7 linked regions of the Homo sapiens genome follow. The protein of the gene in region 1 interacts with the protein of each later gene in a biochemical or structural test. Each region holds a gene or a part of one and is shown in the gene's direction. Other genes may lie near its edges. The genes, in order: GRIP2, GOT1L1, GJC1, MTMR1, DUSP10, PTPRG and SMCHD1.

Evidence for each region.
Region 2: the proteins of GRIP2 (region 1) and GOT1L1 interact in a test that uses a peptide from one of them, tested with the Homo sapiens proteins (one large-scale study listed by IntAct).
Region 3: the proteins of GRIP2 (region 1) and GJC1 interact in a test that uses a peptide from one of them, tested with the Homo sapiens proteins (one large-scale study listed by IntAct).
Region 4: the proteins of GRIP2 (region 1) and MTMR1 interact in a test that uses a peptide from one of them, tested with the Homo sapiens proteins (one large-scale study listed by IntAct).
Region 5: the proteins of GRIP2 (region 1) and DUSP10 interact in a test that uses a peptide from one of them, tested with the Homo sapiens proteins (one large-scale study listed by IntAct).
Region 6: the proteins of GRIP2 (region 1) and PTPRG interact in a test that uses a peptide from one of them, tested with the Homo sapiens proteins (one large-scale study listed by IntAct).
Region 7: the proteins of GRIP2 (region 1) and SMCHD1 interact in a test that uses a peptide from one of them, tested with the Homo sapiens proteins (one large-scale study listed by IntAct).

What each region holds. Positions count from the first base shown.
Region 1 is NC_000003.12:14,516,343-14,519,842, reverse strand, and holds part of GRIP2 (glutamate receptor-interacting protein 2), read left to right. Parts: intron 1-1,945; coding exon 1,946-2,071; intron 2,072-2,629; coding exon 2,630-2,779; intron 2,780-3,500.
Region 2 is NC_000008.11:37,933,781-37,937,124, reverse strand, and holds the end of GOT1L1 (putative aspartate aminotransferase, cytoplasmic 2), read left to right. Parts: intron 1-67; coding exon 68-160; intron 161-254; coding exon 255-405; intron 406-1,255; coding exon 1,256-1,421; intron 1,422-1,670; exon of another isoform or gene 1,671-1,825; intron 1,826-1,909; coding exon 1,910-2,052; intron 2,053-2,638; coding exon 2,639-2,832; 3' UTR 2,833-2,844; downstream 2,845-3,344.
Region 3 is NC_000017.11:44,799,288-44,802,787, reverse strand, and holds part of GJC1 (gap junction gamma-1 protein), read left to right. Parts: 3' UTR 1-3,500. UniProt on the Homo sapiens protein: One gap junction consists of a cluster of closely packed pairs of transmembrane channels, the connexons, through which materials of low MW diffuse from one cell to a neighboring cell.
Region 4 is NC_000023.11:150,759,396-150,762,501, forward strand, and holds part of MTMR1 (phosphatidylinositol-3-phosphate phosphatase MTMR1), read left to right. Parts: intron 1-3,106. UniProt on the Homo sapiens protein: Lipid phosphatase that specifically dephosphorylates the D-3 position of phosphatidylinositol 3-phosphate, generating phosphatidylinositol. Could also dephosphorylate phosphatidylinositol 3,5-bisphosphate to produce phosphatidylinositol 5-phosphate.
Region 5 is NC_000001.11:221,732,090-221,735,589, reverse strand, and holds part of DUSP10 (dual specificity protein phosphatase 10), read left to right. Parts: exon of another isoform or gene 1-155; intron 156-3,500. UniProt on the Homo sapiens protein: Protein phosphatase involved in the inactivation of MAP kinases. Has a specificity for the MAPK11/MAPK12/MAPK13/MAPK14 subfamily. It preferably dephosphorylates p38.
Region 6 is NC_000003.12:62,205,071-62,208,570, forward strand, and holds part of PTPRG (receptor-type tyrosine-protein phosphatase gamma isoform 1 precursor), read left to right. Parts: intron 1-3,500.
Region 7 is NC_000018.10:2,662,226-2,665,725, forward strand, and holds part of SMCHD1 (structural maintenance of chromosomes flexible hinge domain-containing protein 1), read left to right. Parts: intron 1-3,500. UniProt on the Homo sapiens protein: Non-canonical member of the structural maintenance of chromosomes (SMC) protein family that plays a key role in epigenetic silencing by regulating chromatin architecture.

The sequences.
Region 1 (3,500 bases):
AGGGCTAGAATGAGGGAGGGAACAGTCCTGTGCTCTCTGCTACTCAGAGCTTAGATCCTGGGCTCTTCTCAGTGACTCTCAGCAGATCCAGAGGAGGCAGCTGGGAAGTTAGAGAGGGCCTGGAGTTTCTCCTTTGAAGAGTCAGGGTCTCCCAGCTATGAGCAGGGAGCTGGGTGCTGGGCATTTCCAAGAGCAGAGGAAGTGGGTGGTCTGGGGGTCCAGAGGGCACAGTTGGGGCCAGGGGCAGGGTGGGGGGTGGCCACAGAGGGGCAGCTTTCAGCTCAGGGCAGGAAAGCACGTCCAGCAGCCCAAACCTTGGGCCTTGAGTGAAAGTCCCATCTTTGCTCCCAGCAGCTGGACAAGTGCTTTTCCCTCTCTGAGTCCCAGTCATCTCATCTGTAAAAAGGAGGGAGGACTTCTAATGCACAGACATGGGGGAGGCTGACGGAGATAAAGGACAAGGCACAGCCCAGGCCTATAAATCCTAGCCCTAAGGGCAGAGCTGGAGGGTGAGGAAGGAGTCTGTCCACCCCACCCTTTGCAAACCCCATCTTCTGGAAGAGAACGGAATCCCCCACATCTGATTGGGAGGACAGTTCTTGGGGAGAGTCCATCTCTATGGTCTCTGCCAGCTTCTGAAAAAGCCACACTGAATGAACCACAGTCCAGGGACTGGTCTGGGTGACATTAGGGCTTGAAACAGCGTCATTCATTCTCGTACCATTTATCGAGCATCTGCCACGTGCCAGGTTCGGTGCCGCGGCCTGCACGCCTCATTACTTCCTCATGACACCTCTCTGAGCTTAGTCTTACTGTCCTCCCACTTTACAGGGAAAGCTGAGGTAGCGTTGCAAGGCTACACATCTGCGTACAACCCCTTGGCTCTCATTAACTGAGCTTCTACTAAGTGCCAGGCACTGCTCTAAGCATGTTATATTATTAACTCATTCTAACCCTCCCCATTACCCGAGGAGGTGGCCACTCTCTTGGTCCCATTTTACAGATAATAGCACTGAGGCACAGATAGGCGAAGTGACTCCTCCAGGTCCCGCAGTTGGTCAGGGACAGAGCTGGGATTTGACCCAGGCAACTGGCTCCAGAGTGGGCCAAGCCCTGGGGAGGGGGGCTGTGGAGATGTGGCTCAAGGAGACAGAATCAACGGGCTGAGACAGTTGAGTCCTCACCTGTCCATCCGCGCAAGAGGAGAGCTGGCCTGGGGCGGTCTGGGAAGAGGTGTTGTATGGTGGCCAGTTTGGAGGATCAGATGGAGGAAGCAGGGTCTCCTAGGGGGTCGGGGCAGTGGGGGTTCCCTGGGAACTTGGAACAGGAGTGCAAAGAATTCACTGTGGATAAGGCTGGGAAGGGTTGCAGCCTGGGAAGGGGGAGCAGCCTCAGCCCGTGGTGCACTTCAGCCTTGGCCAACCCAGCAGGAAGCCCTGGAGCAAAGGCTGTCCTGGAGAGTCGTGGGGCAGAAATAGCCAGGCCCTAGTGCCCCGGTGCTCAGCCACTGGCCGAGGCTGCCTGGGCTGCAGAGCCACTGCATATCCCCAAAGTGCTGCAGCTGGACACCGTCTGCCAGCTGCACTCCTCACCAATTCTTTCTTGGAGAAACTTCATGGCAGCACTCATAGCCATAGACCTCTCCGGCTCCAGGGCAGGATGCCTGTGTTCAAATCCCTGCTCCACAACCTCCCAGCAGTGGGCCTCGGCCTGGCTTCCTTTCTCTCTCCTGTCCCTGCCTCTCAGGCTGCCATGTGGCAGCAGCTGCACTCTGAACACAGTGCCCGGCACATTGTAGGCGTCCGGGACATGTGAGCAGAATACTAAATGCCTTGCCTGGCTCAGGGGAAGCACGAGGATCTTCTGGTTCTTGCTTTCCTGGCTTCATAGTGCCCTCAGCCACTAACGCCTGCACCTCTCTTTCCTCTTTCTCCGCTGGCTACAGTGAAAGTGCAGAGGAGTGAGCAGCTGCACCGCTGGGACCCCTGCGTGCCCTCCTGCCACAGCCCCCGGCCCGGCCACTGCAGGATGCCCACCTGGGCCACACCTGCTGGCCAGGACCAAAGCCGATGTAATGTGCCTGCCCTGCTGTAGCTCAGCCAGTCTTGTAGCCTTTCCTAGGGAGGGGGCGATGCCTGTTGTCTAAGGGAAGGAAACTCAGACTCAGAGATTAGTGAGCTGGGTGTGGTGGTGCACGCCTGTGGTCCCAGCCACTCGGGAGGCTGAGGCGGGAGGATCGCTTCAGCCTGGGAGGTTGAGGCTGCAGTGAGTCAAGATCACACCGCCGCACTTCAGCCTGGGTGACAGAGCGAGACCTCAACTAAAAAAAAAAAAAAAAAAAAAAAAAAGAGAGAGAGATTAGGTGGCCTGCCTCATTGTCATCTAGCATGCCAGTGGCAAGATTGGCCCCGTCCCTAATAGCTGAGTTTCACAGGGTCTATGGAAACCCTGCAGTCTTTGAGACCCAGAGAGGAAAGGGACTTGCCTGAGGTCACACAATGAGTAACTGATGTGAAGGGGGAAGGCATCCCCATCTCTCCCTGTGGTTGGGTGGCTTCCCAGCACCCACTGTGTGGTGGGGTGGAGAGCCTCGGCTGGGGTTCACGGGGCTGTGCTCTCATCTCCCCAGCCTTGTCTTCAACTCCCTTTTCCTCGCCGACCTTGAACCACGCCTTTTCCTGCAACAACCCCAGCACCCTTCCCCGTGGATCCCAGCCCATGAGTCCTCGAACTACAATGGGGCGGAGGAGGCAGCGAAGAAGGGAACACAAGAGCTCGTGTAAGCTGTGGTCTCTTCCCTCCTCCTTGGGCTGCTTGTATGTCTGAGAGTGAGGCTTGCCAAAGGGTGTATGTCAGGGCGAGGGGAGGTATTTTGGGCAGAGCTCCAGGTGTATGCGTGGGAATGTTAAATAACATGAGTGGAACACCAGGCTGTCATGGATGGTTGGGCAGGTTGTGCACTGCTCAAGAGGACCACTGAGAGGTGCCAGTTACTTTGTACACTTTTATTCTTGTATTTTTATTATGAAAAATTCCTAGGATTTGGTGATAACGTCCTTGAGGAAAGGAAGTCTTTTCAGATGTGCATGAAGTTTTCACATTTTTTGCCATTCAGTCCTGATTCATTCATGGATAAAGCCTCAGTGCTGCGTTACTATATCCTTACCACCTCTCTGCCATTTGTTAATTTCCCCTAAGACAAAGACATGGCCTGAGACTCTAGCTGTCCAGAATGTAATAATTTCCAGTCTTACTTCTCTGCTTATTTATTGTTCAAAATTGCCCTTTTGAAATAAAGATATTTACATGTTAAGAAAAGTAAATCAATAGAAGACAAAAGTAGTGAATGATAAGGCAGGAGCCCTGTGGAAGTGGCAAAACACAATAATGCCTAAAATTTTGAAACCCTTCTTGGGAACAGTCTTTCCTTTGTTGATGCAGAAAGGGTTCTCAGCCTCCTGCCACATGAGCTGCAGAGGCCTCCAGGAAGGATAGAAGAT
Region 2 (3,344 bases), on another chromosome or scaffold:
CCCAAATGCCCTGGGGCCGCCACTCCTGGGTGGGGGTGAAGCCTGATGAGACCGTCTGTACCTGCAGCAGATCCCACATGGCTGTGTCCTTGTGATGGGGAACATTATCGACTGCAAGTTGACACCAAGTGGGTGGGCAAAGTTGATGTCCATGATAAAGGTAAACCCAATCTCCCACCCGACCTTCCTGTCTTTGACTCTCTGCTCTCTCCTCCATCTGTCTCATTCTTTTTTTGTTCTCCTTTCTCCTACAGAGCAAGCAGATATTCCCATTTTTTGATATTCCCTGTCAAGGTTTATACACCAGTGACTTGGAAGAAGATACTAGAATCTTACAATACTTTGTGTCTCAAGGCTTTGAGTTCTTCTGCAGCCAGTCTCTGTCCAAGAATTTTGGCATTTATGGTATGGTACAGGCAGAAGAAGGGAGGGTCTGTTGCTGAAGTGGTGCTGCGCTCACAGCACAGTGATGTTTTTGATATCTCATCCTTGGGAGGGAGCCAAGGACTCTAGGGAGAGCACTATAGAAGCAGAAGTGGGGAGCACTGAGCTAGAATTTGGTTCTGTTACTAAATCTAGTAACAGAACCCAACCCAGCTTGGCTTGGATCATTTCACCCCCTCAGGCCTCTGTTTCCTCAACTATAAGATGAGAGGGTGGGGCTGGCATGGTGGGTGACACCTGTAATCCCAGTTGACACCTCCTAATCCCTCCTTTGGGAGGTCAAGGTTAGGTGATCACTTGAGGCCAGGAATTCAAGACCAGCCTGGGCAACACACCGAGACCCGGTCTCTACAAACAATTAAAAAAATTAGTCGGGCATGGTGGTACACACCAGTAGTCCTACCCACCCGGGGGGCTGAGGCAGGAGGATTGCTTAAGCCCAGGAGGTAGAGGTTGCAGTGAGCTATGATTCCACCATTGCACTCTAGCCTGGGCAACAGAGAGAGATGGTCACTTTAAACAAATAAAAATAAAAATAAAAATAAAAAAGGAAAGGAAAGGAAAAAACAGGAGAGTAGAACTTAGTGATCTTTCAAATTCCTTCCTCCTTTAAGACTCTGACTTATGGGTACTTTTGCTGGAAGGAGAGCCTCTGGCAACTTCCCGGAGCCTGAATATCACCCTGGCTGGGCTGCAATGAGGGCCTTGTGGTTCAACCCTTTCTTCTGCAAGGTTGGGGGTTGAGATCTAGGTGAAGGCCTTGGGAGTGGAGGAAGGGGCTGAGGCTGAGGCTGTCTTCCCAACACTGCAGATGAAGGAGTGGGGATGCTAGTGGTGGTGGCAGTCAACAACCAGCAGCTGCTGTGTGTCCTCTCCCAGCTGGAAGGATTAGCCCAGGCCCTGTGGCTAAACCCCCCCAACACGGGTGCACGTGTCATCACCTCCATCCTCTGCAACCCTGCTCTGCTGGGAGAATGGTAAGGGTGAGGGCTGGAGCAGGAAGGGATGGGAGAGGCCCTGGGTGCCTGCAGACCTGCTGATCTGCAGGATTCGGCAGGGTGCTTCTCTCCTGCCCATGTGGCCTTTTTACTCCATTCATTCATCAACATTTACTAAGGACCTGATGTGTACCAATGGCGGTGGCTATGCCAAGGGTTGCCTTAGGGGACAGAGTGATAGGACATTTGTTTTGCACCCAGGCCAATGAGTTATATGAACTCTTCCAGATTGCTTGGGGAGATAAGAGAGCATCAGGGGCTTGCAACTCTGGCAAAATCTGCCTGGGAGCCTCCCTGGTTTGCTTAAATGAATATGAGATCAAACCTCCCTCCCACTCATAATCATCCCAGAGCCTCTGGCACTCTGTTGGAGACCTTTGAAGGTAAGAAGAGTGGACTGGCAATGAGGGAGGTTTGAGGGCAAGGGGGACCTCACACCCTCCTTTCTCATTGTCCTTCCTTGGTAGGAAGCAGAGTCTAAAAGAAGTTGTAGAGAACATCATGCTAACCAAGGAAAAAGTGAAGGAGAAACTCCAGCTCCTGGGAACCCCTGGGTCCTGGGGTCACATCACCGAGCAGAGTGGGACCCACGGCTATCTTGGACTCAACTGTAAGGGTCTAGGGGGCTGGTGTCCCCCCTTTCTGACCTTTGGCCTGTATTTGAGCATTAAACTTCACTGACTAGGTGACCAGTTCCTAGCTTCACTCCAGATTTTGATTCTGTCCTCTGGAAAATGGGCTGCTTTAAAGACACTTCTGGACCCCCAGAAGTACCGACACTCCCTATCCTTCATAAACCAGCCTGGGTGCCCGGTGCAGTGGCTCATGCCTGTAATCCCAACACTTTGAGAGGCCGAGGCGGGTGGGTCACCTGAGGTCAGGAGTTCGAGACCAGCCTGGCCAACATGGTGAAACCCCGTCTCTACTAAAAAATAAAATATGAAAATTAGCCGTGCATGGTGGTGCATCCTGTAATCATAGCTACTTGGGAGGTTGAGGCAGGAGAATCGCTTGAACCTGGGAGGCGAAGGTTGCAGTGAGCCAAGATTGCACCATTGAACTCCAGCCTGGGCAACAAGAGCAAAACTCCATCTCAATCAATCAATCAATAAAAAAATAAGAAAATAAACCAGCCTGGGCTAGAGGAGAATTCGAGATGGCCAGTCTCGAGATCTGAGACCTTGTCATGATTTTAGCCCAGCAGGTGGAATACCTGGTCAGGAAGAAGCACATCTATATCCCCAAGAACGGTCAGATTAACTTCAGCTGTATCAATGCCAACAACATAAATTACATCACTGAGGGCATCAATGAGGCTGTCCTCCTCACAGAGAGCTCAGAGATGTGTCTTCCAAAGGAAAAAAAAACACTGATTGGAATAAAACTTTAGTCTTTGCAAAAATCTTGTGCTGATTATTCATTACTACAATTCATTTCTTTGCTTATTTATGAAGCAGTGGTCTGGCCTCAGTACAGAGAAAGAGACAGAGAGAAAGAGAGAGAGAAAGGCCCAGAGGGGAAGGGTGTATCTACCTTCATTGGCCATCTCATATTTATTGAGCACCTACTACATTAAGGCCCTGAGCTGGCCGTGAAAGGGAGTACAAAAAACAGGTAGAAACCAGCCTGTTTTCTCCAGACACTTACAGTCTAGTTGGGAGACAAGCCTTAGTCACATAAAACACTTAAGTAACATTTTAAGGCTGAATGTGACAGAAGTCAGAATATATAAACAGAAAATGTGCCAGGAATTTAGAAAAGAAATACGTCAAAGTGGGCCAGAATAGATGGGGAGCATCTCATGAGGAGGTAGCACTTGATTGGGATATTGATAGACAGATGAATGGATTGGATGAATAATAACTAATAGAAGCTGGAAGGATATCCTAGGTCAATAACAAC
Region 3 (3,500 bases), on another chromosome or scaffold:
TTTGGGTTCAAGTGATCCTCCCGCCTCAGCCTCTCAAAGTGTTAGTATTATAGGTGTGAGCCACCATGCCCAGCCTAGAAAATTTAACCTTATCTTTTAGCCATTCATTTACTTTTATTTGCTTTTTTAAAAAAAAATCTTTAAATTTTAGCCTAGAGAAGCACCTCAGGAACTCTAAACATCTTAGGCAAAAATTAAACTCAGGTGAGACTGAAGGAGAAATTTCAGAAATACACATGTACCTCATGGGTAATTAATAGACATGCACAGTTTCCTTCAAATCAAATGTTTAATAAGGAAATTCATATAATTCCAAGAAAACAGGCAAAATTTGGAATACATAAGCCTAGCTAAGATAAAGAACTACCAGTTAATTCTTAACATCACTGGAGCTTCCAGCAGGTTTTTTAATTGAAGGACAAAAAGTGTCCATACATTTGTGTTATCTCTTCAGAGCCTGAGGGAGAAGAGAGTGGCTTTGCCCAGTGGAAAGGCTGGGGATTTGAGAATGATACAGGGGGAAGGAGTCAAGCAGAAATGCCAGGAAGAACCAGGCAAAGACATTTGGCGCCAGAAGCATCCACTTAATTTCTGTGAAGAGTGCCCCTGGTGTTTCATCTTGGCCTGTTTTGATGAGAATGTTATCTTTTGTGTCTGGATAACGCGTCAGCTTCTTAAAGTACATATAAAGATATTCTGTCACCTCCCCACATGCACACACTTTTAAAATCTATTTTTATTCTCTTGCTAAAGTTGTAATTATGTCAAGAATTTTCCAGCTCTAACTGCCTTCTTAGTACATGTCTTTCTGCCTTTGAAGCATATGAGTTTGCCAAAGTCATTCTCCCCTAATGACATATTGTGGACTTACATTAAGAAAATGGGCCAGGCGCGGTGGCTCACACCTGTAATCCCAGCACTTTAGGAGGCCCAGGCGGGTGGATTACCTGAGGTCAGGAGTTCAAGACCAGACTGGTCAACATGGTGAAACTCCATCTCTACTAAAAATACAGAAATTAGCCAGGAGTGCTGGGTGGACGCCTGCAATCCCAGCTACTTGGGAGGTTGAGGCAGGAGAATTGCTTGAACCCAGGAGGCAGAGGTTGCAGTGAGCTGAGATCATACCATTGCACTCCAGCCTGCAAGACAGAGTGAAACTCTTGTCTCAAAAAAAAAAAAAGAAAAAAAGAAAGTGAGCCTGTTGATGTCTAGCTAACCCATTGGTGGAGTCTGCATTGAATCTGTAAGAATATTGTTCTGGATCATGCAGGTGGGATTTGTATAAAAAGCCTGTCCAACATTTAGTTCTCACTCGCATCAGAATCATACTGTTTTGAATTGCCATATAAGACATGCTCCATCATGACACTTGCTTCTCCTCCAAATACAAGTTGAGTGCTTAGTCCTTCACCTGCTAGAATCAGGATACAATCAACATGATTATGTTCCTTAACACACTTGGATTTATGCAGATGTGGTGTGTCCTTTGCTCTTTTTTTTCTTAAGACAGAGTCTTGCTCTTGTCGCTCAGGCTGGAGTGCAGTGGTGTGATTTCGGCTCACTGCAACCTCCGCCTCCTGGGTTCAAGCGATTCTCCTGCCTCAGCCTCCCGAGTAGCTGGGATTACAGGCACCACCACCATACCAGGCTGATTTTTTTTGTATTTTTAATATAGACAGGGCTTCATCATGTTGGCCAGGCTGGCAGGCTGGTCTCGAACTCCTCACCTCGTGATCCGCCCACCTCAGCTTCCCAAAGTGCTGTGATTACAGGCGTGAGCCACCGCGCCTGGCCTGCTCTTAAAACCCGTTATTCAGAAGATTTGTAAAAGAAATAGGCTTTTTTTTTTTTTTTGGTTAATTCAAACGAGGGGAAAATTAGATAGCATTTTCCCCTAAAGAAATGTTAATGTTCATTTTGTGGCTTTGTTTTCAAGTTTCAGGAGCCATGTACATCTCAGAAGTGTTACGAAGTGATTAGAAAAGGCCTCTGGTAAAAGACCTTCAAGGACCAACCATTATTATTGGTCACTTGTTTGAACTTGGCGCTTAAAAAAAAAGTTGGACTGTGATGCTTTGGTGCTCTTTATCACAGACATCAGTGATGGTCTGAAACACTCTCTAGCAGTTTATACGAAGAATGGACTTACATGTTATCAGTTACACTCATGATTTACTCGTTCAGCTTCTACAAGTCCATACTTTATGCTGTCTCATTTAAGAGACAGTCCACTTCTGAAAATAAAATCGATAGTTGATGATACATTTTTGGCTAGCCAGCTTTCTGTAAAAGGCAAGTATGTTAGACATGCACAGTTTCCTTCAAATCAAATGTTTAATAAGGTACTTCAAGAAACGCCTTTTTAAAAATCAAAGGTTTTGGCCAGGCATGGTGGCTCACGCCTGTAATCCCAGCACTTTGGGAGGCCAAGGTGGGCGAATCACAAGGTCAGGAGTTTGAGACCAGCCTGGCCAACATGGTGAAACCCCGTCTCTACTAAAAATACCAAAAATTAGCCGGGCGTGGTGGTGGGTACCTGTAATCCCAGCTACTCAGGAGGCTGAGATGAGAATCACTTGATCCCAGGAGGTAGAGGTTGCAGTGAGCCGAGATTGCGCCATTGCACTTCAGCCTGGGCAACGAGTGAAACTCTCAAAAAAAAATTCATAGTAATAATAAAGTCCCTGCATGCAGTTTGGAAATAAAATTTAAACTCATTTATGTGTAATAAATATGTAATAATTCACAGTCACCATCAAATGTTGGAATCATTGAATTGCATACTTGTACTCATTCCGGCCACATCATGAAGTGTTTAAAGATTTGTATTTGCTGTTGTCCCTATGTAGTTCTATTGATGTTTGGTTTTGTTTTTTGGGGTTTGTTTTGAGCCCAGGCTAGAGTGCAATGGCACAATCTCAACTCACTACAGCCTGGACCTCCTTGGCTCAAGCAGTCCTCCCACTTCAGCCTCCCAAGTAGCTGGTCTGCAAGTGCTCACCACCACACCTGGCTAATTTTTGTATTTTTTGTAGAGACAGAGCTCTCACTATGTTGCCTAGACTGGTCTCAAACTCCTGGGCCCAAGCAATCCTCCCATCACAGCCTCCGAAGGTGCTGGGATTACAGGCATAAGCCACTGTGCCCAGCCTGTTTTTAATAATGATATTAAGTGGGTTTGGTTCATGTGTTATTAATCAGTGTTAATAATCGTACTTTTTTTTTTTTTTAAAAGAAACCATGGTATTCTAAAATCAGGAGTCCAAATAAAAGAAAGTTCTCGGCTGTGCATGGTGGCTAACACCTGTAATCCCAGCACTTTGGGAGGCTGAGGTGGGTGGATCACTAGAGGTCAGGAGTTTGAAACAAGCCTGGCCAACATGGTAAAACCCCCTCTCTACTAAAAATACAAAAATTAGCCGGGCATGGTGGTGCACACCTGTAATCCCAGCTACTCGGGATGTTGAGGCATGAGATTTCCTTGAACCTGGAAGGCAGAG
Region 4 (3,106 bases), on another chromosome or scaffold:
AGGCCCGGGTGGTTGGTGGAGTGTCATGAACATTAGCAGAAAATCCAACAGAACCATGCCTGATCTGGAGTGCCTTTGGCTAAACAGAGCCTCTCGATTACTGCAGGAGACCCCCGTACCCCTGCCACGCTCCCCCTTGTGCAGCAGGTTGCAGAGGTGAAGAAATGCTGAACCAGCAGAGAGGGTTAGAGTGGTGTCCCACAGGGGTGCACCCAGGCTCAGATTCTTGCCCGCCGCGTGAGGCAGGTAACAGACCTTTCCTAAAACCTACAAACTGCGCGACAGATCTGTTCCCAGATGTGGTCAGGTTCTCACTCATGTAGGCGAAGCCACCTGCAACATCATGATGATGATGGAAACCACAGCGACAGCGCCTATAACCTGCAGTCCTCTTGTGTGCCAGTGGGTTCTGTACACACATGATCCCAGTTAACGCTCCCAGCAATTCCACGACGTAGAGAATGAGGGAAGGGTCAGAGAAGCAGTGACTTGGTTGAAATCTTGCTGCCCAGTGCGTGTAGTTGTGGAAGGATGCCCCCGACAGGGCCAGATCCCGTCTCTGGCAGTGACTCACCGCCTGATCTGCAGCAGGGTCCTGAGCCTCACGGGGACCTCACAGGGGGTTGCTGAGCAGGAAGTGAATCCATTCCAAGTGCACTGTGCTCGGAGGGTAGTAGGTGTGTGGTCCTGCTTTTTGCATTCTCCCTCCATTGTGCTACACAGAAGAGAGAACCAAAAAAGAGTACATGGGCCGCAGCTTGTTATCCTGTATGCAACAGGCATGTGTCGGACACCTCCTAGGTGTGGGAATGGGGGTGGGGGAGTGCATTGAAGACAGGCAGAGATCAGTGGCTGGTGTGGGTGTCCAGTGACAGGGCCTGAGGAGCCAGGTGAGGCAGAGAGAAGGAGGAAGAGAGGGGAGGGGAGGGAGTGCAGGGGGGTAAACGACAGGGCAGATGCAAGCCTGTTGGGCCTCTTTTCTCTGAGAAGGCAGTGGCTCGATTGGCTGCCGAGAAAGGGGTTCTTTGGGCATCCATCAGAGGATGGCTGGGTGTGGAAGGCCCAGGGGCGTCCTATTTCCTTTGGGACTGTCTTGCCTTATGTCTTGTGATGCTAGTACCCATGCGGCAAACATGACTGGCCCTTAGATGGGAATTTTCTCTAACACAATCCTCTGTTTAAGCCTCCGAGTTTTCTATTCCTTCAGGCATGCCCTTGATTTGTTGCAAATGAAAATATGTGAGTAGGCCAGGCGCGGTGGCTCACGCCTGTAATCCCAGCAGTTTGGGAGGCCAAGGCGGGCAGATCACTTGAGATCAGGAGTTCGAGACTAGCCTGGCCAACATAGTGAAACCTCATCTCTATTAAAAATACAAAAATTAGCCAGACACAGTGGTGGCGGGCGCCTGTAATCCCAGCTGCTCAGGAGGCTGAGGCAGGAGAATCGCTTGAATTCGGGAGGCGGAGGTTGCAGTGAGCTGAGATCGTGCCGCTGCACTCCAGCCTGGGGGAGAGAGTGAGACTGCATTCCGCCTCAAAAAAAAAAAAAAAAAGAAAAAGAAAAGAAATAGGTGAGAAAAGATGCAAACAGCTGGTGAAGAGATGATAGTGGTGCGTTTGAGCAGTGCTGGGTCTGCCCTGGGTGTGTGTCAGTGGTGTATTTCCCTGCGTGTCTTGCTTCTTGCTGAGGTCACATGCCTGTAGATGGATAATGGGAACTTGATTGCAAGGCGTCCCTTGTCTGATCAGAATTAAATGATCCTACAGACAGGAAAACGCATGCCAGATGGGTCCTAAGGGTAAGAGAGGAGCTGGTGCCACCTCCCAGAGGCCTGTGGGATCTGCCTTTGCCATCACACTCCACTCCTGTCCCCTCTGTTCTTCCTGTGGCCTGCCCAAGGGGGTCATTTCTTCTCAGCCCACTGGGTGCTGGTTACTGAGCACCTTGTTATTAGAGGGACCTGGCTGCCCCCTTGCGGTCTCGCTCTCATCCTCCTTCCGTCTCCCCCTTCCCTCCAGGAGGGCTGATCACCATTGGCACACACGGTGGAACAGCTCAGTCTTTGAGGGAGTGGGGGAAGGACCTGGTGAAAGATGAGCCAGAGGGCCAGGCTGGGGCCAGACTGCAGAGGGCCTCGAGGCCCCTCTCAGGGCAGGGGGAAGAAGTCCCTGGAAGGTGTTAAGTGGCCAGTCACATGGCCTGGCTGAGGCTTAGGAGCCAGCCCTGTGGCTGCTGTTTACACATGGGATCAGAGACAAGGGAAGGCTAGGGAGCTCCCCAGACCCCACCCTGTTTCTCCCTCAGCCCAGTCGGTGACCCCTCACTCTGGTCAGCCTTGCCCCCAGCCAAAGAGCTCCAGGTGAGAAAAGCTGGGTCTCGGATGTCTGGCCTCCTAGTAGCTGCTGGGGACAGCTTGTTAGGCGAGTGGGTTGGGTGCTATGACTATAAAATAGCAGGACTGGATGTCCCATATGCCCCGGGAAAACCTTTCTTGTTTATATTCACCCCTGCCCCACAGTTGATGGGTTTAAAAGAGAAAAGCTAATTAAAGGTGAGGCCTTGCGGTGATGCTGAGCAAGGAGGGAGGGGTTGGTCCTTGGGGAGGCTCCCCACCCCCCTGCCGGCACTGCCCGCTCCGGGGGGCTTCTGGCAGATCCTGCTCCGGTTGATGAAAACACAGCTTCAAGTTGTAAAAAGTGCTGATTTAACAGAAGGATTTTCAGTCAGCAGAGCTATTTATAAAAATGCAAAAATACAGAGATAATGGAGATGCTGGAAAGGGGTCTGCGTGGAAACATTTCTGACGCACAGTCTTTAGGACACTGCTCGTGCCGAGTCTGCACACGGCGCCCTCGGTTGATCCATGGTGCGCAGTGTCCCCGTGCCTGCTTGTCTTCTGAGAAACTGTGGGAGCCTCCCCATGGTGCCTTTTCATCCCGGCTCAGCGGCTCGGCCCCCGGAGCTGCAGGGCGGCCTCAGTGGCAGCCAAAGCTCATGGGATGGGGTCCCATTGTCCACCTGACGCGAGATCGGTCAACGCCTCAGGAGACTTTGGCCGCTCCAGGAGTCTGGATGGTGAAAAGCTCCTGAAGCCAACAGCATCTC
Region 5 (3,500 bases), on another chromosome or scaffold:
TTTTCCTATTTGCTTTCTCTTTTCTGTTGAAATATTTAAAAATATAGATAATGTTTTAATGTATTTAAGTATGTTTAATGTGTAAATTAATGTTTCAAATTCAATAAAGCTGGAAATATTTTATAGTATACTATGAACATTTTCACTCGTAAACACTTGAGTGTCATGTACCCATTTTTAAGTGCTTTTCAACTTCGAATCCCTCTGTGACTGACTGGCAGTCAGGTCTACAGAGGAGCTTCCCTCCCTGGGAGTAGGAGGGCTCCAGGTGCCTCCTTGGGGTCTGTGTGTCCCCCTTCCTCCCTGGTATGTCAGAGCCCATGCCTCTACTTGCTCTATGCTGTTGTAAAACAAGGAATGACCAACTGCTACAATCTTTATAGGACTGCTCTGTACCAAAGGCCTTTACTGGGGGAATGTGAGAAGAAGAGGGAAATGGTTTAAAAGGATGATCCATGGGGAGGATTTGATCATGCAGGCAGTTAGGCCTTTATACTATAAAACTTCATCACTCCTTAGAATTGAGCACCATACATTGCACACTTTTCCCTAGTTGAAAAGAATTCTGAAATATACTCTTATTGGCAATAGAGTTCTATGACAAAGTGGATGGCTAGGCTCAGAAATCAGAGACCTGTGAAAAATATTCTGTTTCTGCCCTTTTTTCGGGGGTGGGGTGGGGAAGGGAATAAAAGTCTCCCCTTTTCTCTCAGAGATGTTATGAGGATTTTAAAAAATACCTGAAATAAAGACATATCTACATTCATAAACGTGCTGTTGTTATTCTGAGCCTCTGGTTAACATCCAAGGCTAAAATGTCAAACATTAGCCTTGTAGCAAATGATGGAGAAATCAAGGCAGAACTTCGGATCTAGTCAGCCTGAATGCTAGCCTTGGCTCCCCTCTAACTAGGTATGTGCCCTTGGGGAAGGAACTGAATCCTTCAGTTCCTTAGTTACCTCATTAACAAAAAGAGGATATAACAATAGCTATCTCAAAGTGTTAGTTTCTGAAATAAATGAATTAATGTGTGTAAAGTGTTCAGAACTTTATACACATACATGGTAAGCACTCCATAAATATGGTAGAATGTTTTTATTGATATTGATTGAAAGGAAATGATAGTGCCAGTACAAAGGCAAATTTTGTTCCTAAGGAGTACAAATAACAAGCTAGGTATAGTAGAGTGTGTGTGTTGCTATGGCCTAAAAATAACTTGGTGACTGTTAACTAATTTAAGTTGCATAGAGTTGGAGTGCCAAGTAATTGCAAAAACATATTGGGCCAGGAGGCTGGAGTAATTTGGGTATATCCAGAATTATTTGTTTTAGGGAAATTTGTAAAAACATGATAATAATTCTGTCCAAATAATGTCCCATAACAAAAGCATAAAACTTTTTAGCTTTGCTTTTTGTTGCCTCTCATCATCTCATCAGGAGGATTTATTTTTGGAATAAGGATTGTGGACTGACTATAAAAGGGTAGATGGAAGGAGGGGTGCGCTGGTTCCTGAGCCTAGGGTTGTGTTGAGTTAGAATGTGAAGGAAAAAGGAGGGAAGGAGTTGAATGGCCTGCTCCTGTCTTTCAGGAAGTCCTGAAACTTCTTTCTGAACTGCTGCACAGTTAGTTGGCTGTCCTCTCTCTGAGCTTTTGGGTACACTCTCCTGCTTCCTAATTTAAGTGTAGGTGAACAGATAATAGAAATGAACTCTCTCTCCCAGCCATGTTCTTGCTTTATCTGTTCCTCATTCACGATGTGCTCAGCAGAGTGAAATTTTGCTCACTTACACCTGGGTTCAAATCTAGGCATTTCCATTGACCAACTGTATGCCTTTAGGCAAATCAGGGGGCCTCTCAGAGGCCAGGTTTTCTTCATTGTAAAACAGGGACAGCTCCAGCATCCTAGGTTGAAACAAGGTGATACAAAGTACCTGGCATTTGATGGCTGTCAATAAATCAAGCCTCTGGACCCTGCTCTCCTACTCTCATGCACTAATGTAAGAACCTCTTACATTGCAGGGGCAGGGGTATTGGGGAGGATGGGCAAGTCGTTCTAAGCACAGTACTGTGGGAGCCTGTTAAGTATGAATACTCTTGCCCTTACCAATTCAGAACAGTTAATTAACTTAATCATCCAGCTTGTCATGGACAAGTTCAAGAAACTCCTCTCCTGGCAATAGGAGACATGATTTCACATTAGAAAAGCAAAGCAGGGGAAGGAAACTGAATAGGTAAAGCACTTTGCCTATTTCTGTTTTCAAAGCACGTGTGTATAGGAGAAAGGAGAAGGGAGAATGGTGAATATGTACACTTTTCTACTTGGTCCTTTAGGCAAACCCATCTGAAGGTCTGACAAAATTACAGGAGCAGAAAAACTTTCCGTCACATACTCCTGGTGCATACACCCTCAGGGACTAAGTGGGAGCTTTTGACCAGTAGCAAAAATCTAGTTCCTTAAACCCTGCATTATCAGAAGCCAGAACCTCCAAGCCCCAGCATTGCTGAAGAGCAGTTTGGGCATGAATGTGTGATATATCGGAGTGCTTAGGCAGTTTAATCCAAGTTGGTTGAAAAAGATAGACTACATATTAAGGAGAGAAATTCTAGTTCCAGGAGAGGTCATCTCACCTTTTTGGAACTAAAGAATCCCAGCTTTGAGAAGAGCAAGGAACTTTAGAGGGCCCCTAATCCAGTAGTTTTCACTGCAGGCTGTTCATTGGTATCACCTGAAGGTGATTTATAACCTATGATGCCCAGTTCGTGTGTCCAGAAAGCCTGATTAAATTGGTCTGGGGTGCAGCCTGCACATCAAGATTTTTTTAAAGCTCCCAAAGTGATTCTAACAGGCAGCAAAGTTTGAGAACCATTGATCTAGTCCGGTATTCTCATTATGCCACTACAGGAATGGGGCTTGTCCAAGGTCACATGCATGATTAATTTTAGAGATTTAGTCCTTAATGTTAAAGTAGGTCTTGCCAGGTTCAACAGATTCAATAGATATCAACAGACTGAGGTATTCGTATGTATCATTATTTAATAACAACAGAATCTAATATATAGCATAAAATATAAGATTTTTTGAGTACTGATGCCTTTTTTCTTGAATTTTGAGATTTCAGTTCAGAACTAAAAAGACCAAAGTCTGAGGACTTTCAAAACCAGCAGTTCATGGTCTATATATTTACCTGGATATTAGAATATGGACCAAATATTAATGTTGATTTAATCTCTTCATCTGGGGAACCTAGTGGTTTAAGCTGTTAACCTAGTGGTTTCAGCTGTTAACAGCTATCAAAACAGGTATCAAAGAAGCCCAACCATCTTAGGCTTCTAGGGACTTTTTGGTAGGTGGTCTCCACAGCTGTACAAACTTGTGGGCAGAGGAGATTCATTTGTTTGTTCAATAAATATTGTTGAATGCCTTTGGTGTGCTAGGCACTAATCTGCAGGCTGGGCAATCTGCATCACAATGCTTATCATTCAAATGCAAGAAAGACAAC
Region 6 (3,500 bases), about 48 Mb from region 1:
AAGCTGAGATCTCGTATGTTAAGATACAACTTAGAATAAATTTTCATGTTTTGAATTACTTTCCTCTTAAAGCTGCTATGAACTAATTTTTTGAAGTGGGGGTCTCCTGTGGGTATTGCTCACTTTAGCTGTGACTGGGGGAAAGGTGCAGAGTAGCCTTTTGTGGAACTGAGTGAAGGAAATGTGGGGCCACTTGGGAAGCTGTTTCTGTAAGAACAGTGACATTCCCTCTAGGAATTACTTTGAAAAAGTTGAATTTCTTGCATTTGAAGACGCTGAAGAAACATGTACGGAATGCCCACTGTATAAGAGGCACCAGGCTAGGCTTTGGCAGTAGAACATAGGTAACACAGACTTCTCTTCTCTTGGGGTTTGCATTCTGGTAGGGGAGCTTGAGAATATGCCAGTAAACAAATACATACCCTTAAGTAGCCTTAATTGCTACAGTTGGGGAGCGGAGGGACAGTGTAGCTCTGAGTGGTCAAGGATGACCTCTGAGCAGAGAGCCAAGTGGTAAGAAGGAGCTAGCCATGCAAAGATCCAGGGAGGGGAATTCTGGGCTGCAGGAACAGCAGGTCCAGAGACCCTACAGTGGGGAATTAATTTGGATCAGTTGAGGAGCTATCAGGCCAGTGTGGTTAGACCAGAGGGAGTGAGGGGGAGAGGAGGGGATGGATTTAGAGATTGATGGAGGTGCTCTGGAAAGGTACTCGTTGACCACGCTGAGGATTTCCTTCTACTAGAAATGAGAAACCAGGGTAGATCTTGGCTGCAGTGTTACTTGATTGATTTTTTGAAAGACCTCTCAGGCCTCTGCGTGGAGATGATATAGGAAGGCAGGAATGGATGAAAGAAGCCCAGTTAGGAGGCAGTGGTAATGGTGGCTTGGACCAGTGTGTTTTCTATGAAGACAGGTGGTGGACTTGGAATTGACTTTCAAGCTTGAGTGTTCAGCCTCTGGACTATGGGCTCTGGCAAAGTAGCATTCTCAGCCTGCTCCTCTTAAACATTTGTTTGACCACATTCCTGAAAAATGTGGCTGCTGAGAGCTTAGGCTGGGAGTATTTACAGTTTGAGAGATGGGAGAGAGGCAGGGACTGGGACCGCCCCAGGTAAGTGGAAATGAGTTCTTGCCATTGGAGTCAGGTTCCAGATTCCAGAGACAGGGGAGAAGAAATGGATGGCAAACTTTGGGGGCTCCCTACTCCAGGTATGAGGTGTGTAGGTCCTCGGCTTCCACCCTACAGAAATCTGAGAGCATCTACAATCTTGGCAGAGTGGCTTTGGGAGTCAGATCAACCCAGTTGGCTCTGTCCCTTATTCACTCAGGGTCCTCAGGTAAGTCTTAGTCCCGTGTCCTCGTTTGCAAAGTGGAGCTAATGATCATGCTTAATGCCGAAGGTGGTGTGGCTGTGGAGACCCCCTCACTGTCACTGACAAATAGGAGCTGTCAGCAGCCCAGGTGCCACACAATGATGGTGACTGTGAGGAGGCCCCCCACAGCCCTTTCCTTTGCTATTGTCTGTGGACATTAAAGCTACTGGTCCCCAAGTAACTGCCATTAAAAATGACCTCCAGATGGCCGAGTGCAGTGGCTCACTCCTGTAGTCCCAGGACTTTGGGAGGCCAAGGAGGGTGGATCGCTTAAATCCAGAAGTTCATGACCAGCCTGGGCAACATGGTGAAACCCCGTCTCTAGAAAAAATACAACAATTAGCAGGGCACAGCGGCTCATGCCTGTAGTCCAGCCACTCGGGAGGCTGAGGTGGGAGATCACTTGAGCCTGGAAGGCAGAGGCTGCAGTGAGAAGATCACACCACTGACAGAGCAAGACTCTGTCTCAAAAAAAAAAAAAAAAAAAAAAAAAAAGAAGGACCTCCTCCTGAAACTCAACACTGGTAAATCAGAGCTTTCCCTTATCACCTTCAGCAAAGTGAGAAGGTCCACTTCTGAAAGCTAAAAAAAACTTCCTTGAAAATTTCAAGCAGTTCAAGTCTGAAAATGGTGGTGATGATTGTTTAAGCCAGATATAAGCAAACTTTTTCAGCTAAGGGCCAGAGAGTAAATGTTTTTCAGTTTTGCAGGCCACAGGTCTCTGCTGCAGCTACTTAATTCTGCCTTGTAGCACAAAAGCCACCATAGACAATACACAGCTGAGAGGATGTGATAGTATTTCAATTAAAACTTTGTTTGCAGAAACAGGCGATGGGTCTGATATGGTCCACAATCTGTCATTTGCCAACCCCTGGTTTACACAGAAATCTGCATGTGCCTGTTGATTAGTAAAGGACGTGAGTGACCTGAAGGTAAAACAAGCAAATCCCACATCAGTCAATGATCCTTCAGGTCTTGCTTCACTTCCATTCACCCTGTCCTTTGCCCTGTCTGCCTCCTCCAGTATGGTATTTATTTTTTAATGAAATCGCCATCATTTTAATGTTAGTGATTTATTTTAAGGACTTTGTGTGTACATTTGCTTTAAATCTGTTACACATTTATTTTTTCTTCATATTAAGGAAAAACAATTACTTTAATCAATACCTGGTCTCTGAAAAGAGTGATAATGTGTAAAGTTACACACTGTTATATTTTTATGAGTATCTCCAAACAGCTTGTTTAAATCCCTTTGGTGTTTCATAACATATTTTTAAGTCCTGTGAGTAGTGGCTTTAATATATTATCTCCCAGGGAAGAAGAAGAAGGGAATCCTTCTATAGAAGAAGTGGCAAACCCAGACACCTACAGAAACCAGTTAATACTAATGAGAAACAAGGACCAGGTGTTAGACATTAGGGAGTGGTAAGGACTGCAGCAAATTAAAGAGCACATGACTTTTCTAAAGAGGGCCATCTCACTCAGCTCCAACAGATTACTGCCAGTGAGAATGCCTAGTGAGCCAGAAATCCAGGTTTTTGTGCAGAACCCCCCAACTTTTAAGTAAGCTCAAATTTTTAAAACAATTTCTGCTTTTTAAAAATGTAGGCCAAACTAAACCCATCCCTGGGCCAGGTAGGAACCGCGGGTGGTCAACCTCTACTGTAGTGTTGATTGCTAGAGTTGCAACTTCCTGAGAAGCCTTTCAGAAGGCTTGAAGGCCTAGGTGTACTCCCTCCCTTTCACCAGGCTTTTTTCTAGCGTTTCTTTAGTGCAAAGCCCTCAGCTGGATGTCTGCTACATGGAAATCCAGCATGTGGTCCCATCCTGAGGAGCCACAGCGTGAGCCCAGAAGCCAACTGATGCAATGAAATGTTCTTGGGGGTACTATGCAGTACAGCATACCCTACAAAAACATTTCAGAGTGGGCATCATCTACAAATTCATCATTTGGTGCTGGGATTTTCCATTTTTGTTTCCTTAAATTAGGGAAACTCTTTTTTCAGGTTGAATCTTGCTCAGAAACTCAGTATGTGAACACTCATTGCTGAAGGTTTACTGACTGCATCTTCTGGCTCAGCCCTGAGTCAGGTGCTAAGGGGACATTCCACTTCAGGGGTCGGCAT
Region 7 (3,500 bases), on another chromosome or scaffold:
AAAAATAATAGACTTATGTGGGATTATATGGAATAATTAGATATGTTTAGGTGAACATAGATCTTAAAAAAATCATTTGCACATAGTTTTTCAGTAACTACAGGATGCATAATTACATGATTTAACAAGTGGGACATTGGCCAGGCCTGGTGGCTCACGCCTCTAATCCCAGCACTTTGGGAGGCCAAGGCAGGGAGATCATCTGAGGTCAGGAGTTTGAGACCAGCTGGCCAACGTGGTGAAACTCTGTCTCTACTAAAAATGCAAAAATTAGCCAGGTGTGGTGGCACACGCCTGTAGTCCCAGCTGCTTGGGAGGCAGAGGCAGGAGAATGGTGTGAACCCGGGCGGCGGAGCTTGCAGTGAGCTGAGATCGTGCCATTGCACTCCAGCCTGCACAACAGAGCAAGACTCCATCTCAACAACAATAACAACAAAAAACCAAAAAAAAAAAAAAAAAAAAAAAGGGACATCATAGAAATAAAAAAGTAGTAATGAATTAAAAAATACACGACTGTCATGGTTATATGAAACCTAATAAAAATCTATAAGGTCATTTTTGTCTCTGTTAAACAAATAGAATCTTCCCAGTCAGTTTATGTTCATGGCTTTATTTCTCTAGGGTGGAATTGCATGGAATATGAGTATCTTTTAAGTTTACTAAAGTATGCCAAATTAATTACTTTCTTTATGTTTGACTTTTTTTCAGTCATATCAGCAGTGTGTAAGGTACCTATTTCTCTGTACAGAGGCCTACACTTGATGGGCTCAGAATTTAACATTTTTGCCTACCTGATGAGAATAAGTTATATTAATTTCACTGATAACTAGTGATGTTGATCTTTTTATGTTGTCTGGTCTTTTTCTTTATGACTTGTGCTATTTGCATCTTTTGAGACAGAGTCTCACTCAAAAGTCACCCAAGCTAGAGTGCAGTAGTGTGTGATCACGGCTCACTGCAGCCTCGGCTTCCCAGGCTCAGGGGATCGTCCAACCTCAGCCTCTTGAGTGGTTGTGACTACACGTGTGCACCACCATGCCCAGCTATTTTTTTTTTTTCCATTTTTTGTAGAGATGGGGTTTTACCACATTGCCCAGGCTGGTCTTGAACTCCTGAGTTCAAGCAATCCGCCCACCTTGGCCTCCCAGAGTGCTGGGATTACAGCTGTGAACCACTGTGCCTGGCCCACTGTTTGTACCTTTTCAGAAATCCCTTTATGCTCACTCAAAATTATTTCCCTATGTGTTCTTTTACAATTTTGGGCTAATGTACAACTGCTTTAATTCTCCTGGAATTTATTTTTGTCTAAGTTAAGGTGTGGATTTTATCTGTTTCCATGTTGAGATAACTAGTTGTCTTAATATCATTCATTGGATAGTTTATTCTTTCCCCACCAATTTGTAATGTCACCTCTCTTGTTTGCTAGGCTCTGCATCCATATATATGTGGACCTGTCTAAGGGCCCTCTATTCTCTTCCACTGGTCTATTCCAGGAATTTTTTTTTTTAAGACGGAGTCTCGCTCTGTCGCCCAGGCTGGAGTGCAGTGGCGCGATCTCACCTTACTGCCAGCTCCACCTCCCGGGTTCACGCCATTCTCCTGCCTCAGCCTCCCGAGTAGTTGGGACTACAGGCGCCTGCCACCACGCCTGGCTAATTTTTTTGTACTTTTAGTAGAGACGGGGTTTCACCGTGTTAGCCAGGATGGTCTCGATCTCCTGCCCTCGTGATCCACCCTCCTCAGCCTCCCAAAGTGCTGGGATTACAGGTTTGAGCCACCGCGCCCGGCCTATTCCAGGATATTTTAAAGTAGAAATTTTCTTATGAAAACCTTCAGACACAAAGAGAGAATCATGTTATGAACCCCAGTGTACTCATCCAGATTCAAGTTAATAGGAATTTACCACACTAGGATCATTTTTGTTTTTGTAATGTATTTAAGGCATATTCTAGGTCTTAGGTCATTTCACCCCATATACTTCAGCCTGAATATGTATTATCAAACCATTAAAATAAAGCATTTTTAATATTGTCTAATGTCCCTGTCCATATTGAGTTCTCTGAATGTTTAAAAGTATCTTTTTATAGTTGGTTTGTTTAAATCAGGATCTGACATAGTCCTCACATTAAATTTGTTTTTTTTTTGTTTCCTAATTATTTTCAATTTAAAGCATTTGAGCAAATTCCTCCTCCACCAGTCTCTTTAGTTTTCCTGCAGTTGACCTCTTGAAGAAATCAACTAGGTCTTTAATATTCCACATTATGGATTTGTTTGTGCTCTTTTTTGGTGTTACTTAATTTGTTTTATCTCCGTATGTATTCTGTAAACTAAAAGTTAGCTTTAAAGGCTTGATTTGATTTAGGTTCAACTTCTTTGGGGTCAGGAGGCAAAGAATGCTTTGTAGGTAGTACTGATACTTCATATGGCATTACACTGGGAGGCACGTGATGTGTGGGTGTTTCACCCACTCATAGCAATGCTAACATTAAAATCTTGGGATTCACGTGATTTCAGCAGGATTCCTCCATAAGGAAGTTTTGATCTGACTTGCCATTCCTCCTGTGTTTATTAGCTGGAATTCTTTAAGGAACAACTTTGCCTCATCAGCCAGAGCTATTTTGGTTATCCTGAAGTACCATTGATACAAGAAAAGCAGTGTAAATAATTTGTTCTTTCCCTTTAATTTGTCAGTGTTCAGAGTGACAAGTTGGTGCCCTAGCTCATCCCAGTGGTGAGCAATAATGGTTTTTATTAATATCATTTTTGAAGATTTGAGTATCACTAGTCTAGATTTTTTAGATGTTTTCAATAAGAATGTTAATCTTTAGACTAGTCCATTACTACCCGAAACAGAAGCCTTTTCTCTTAACTATATATTGCTGTATTGTTTCATTTTAGACAGAGCATGTATGTTTTAATTCTAATGTAAATGAAAATGTTAACCACTTTTCTAATTCTCATTTTTTGATTAATGTGATTTTACAGTTCATGTGTTCATTGGTCATTTGTATTTTCTCCTTTTCATTTTTTTGTGTTTTTACTTTTTCTCTTTGTTGATCCTTGTCACCCTTTTGTTTCTTGTTGCAATTTCCCTCTAATTTTTTTTTTTCTTTGAGACGGAGTCTCATTCTGTTGCTCAGGCTGGAGTGCAGTGGTGTGATCTTGGCTCACTGCAACCTCCGCCTCCCCAGTTCAAGTGATTCTCCTGCCTTGGCCTCCTGAGTAGCTGGGATTACAGGTGTGCGCCACCACACCTGGCTAATTTTTGTATTTTTAGTAGAGACAGGGTTTCACCATGTTGGTCGGGCTGGTCTTGAACTCCTGACCTTGTGATCCGACGGCCTCAGCCTCCCAAAGTGCTGGGATGACAGGCATGAGCTACCATGCCTGGCCAGTTTCCCTCTAATTTATAATTTGCTTTAATTTTTAAAGTTATTCGTTTGAATGGACCTGTATGTCTTACAAAGCATGGCTGTTCTTCCCTCCGTGCTATAAAATGC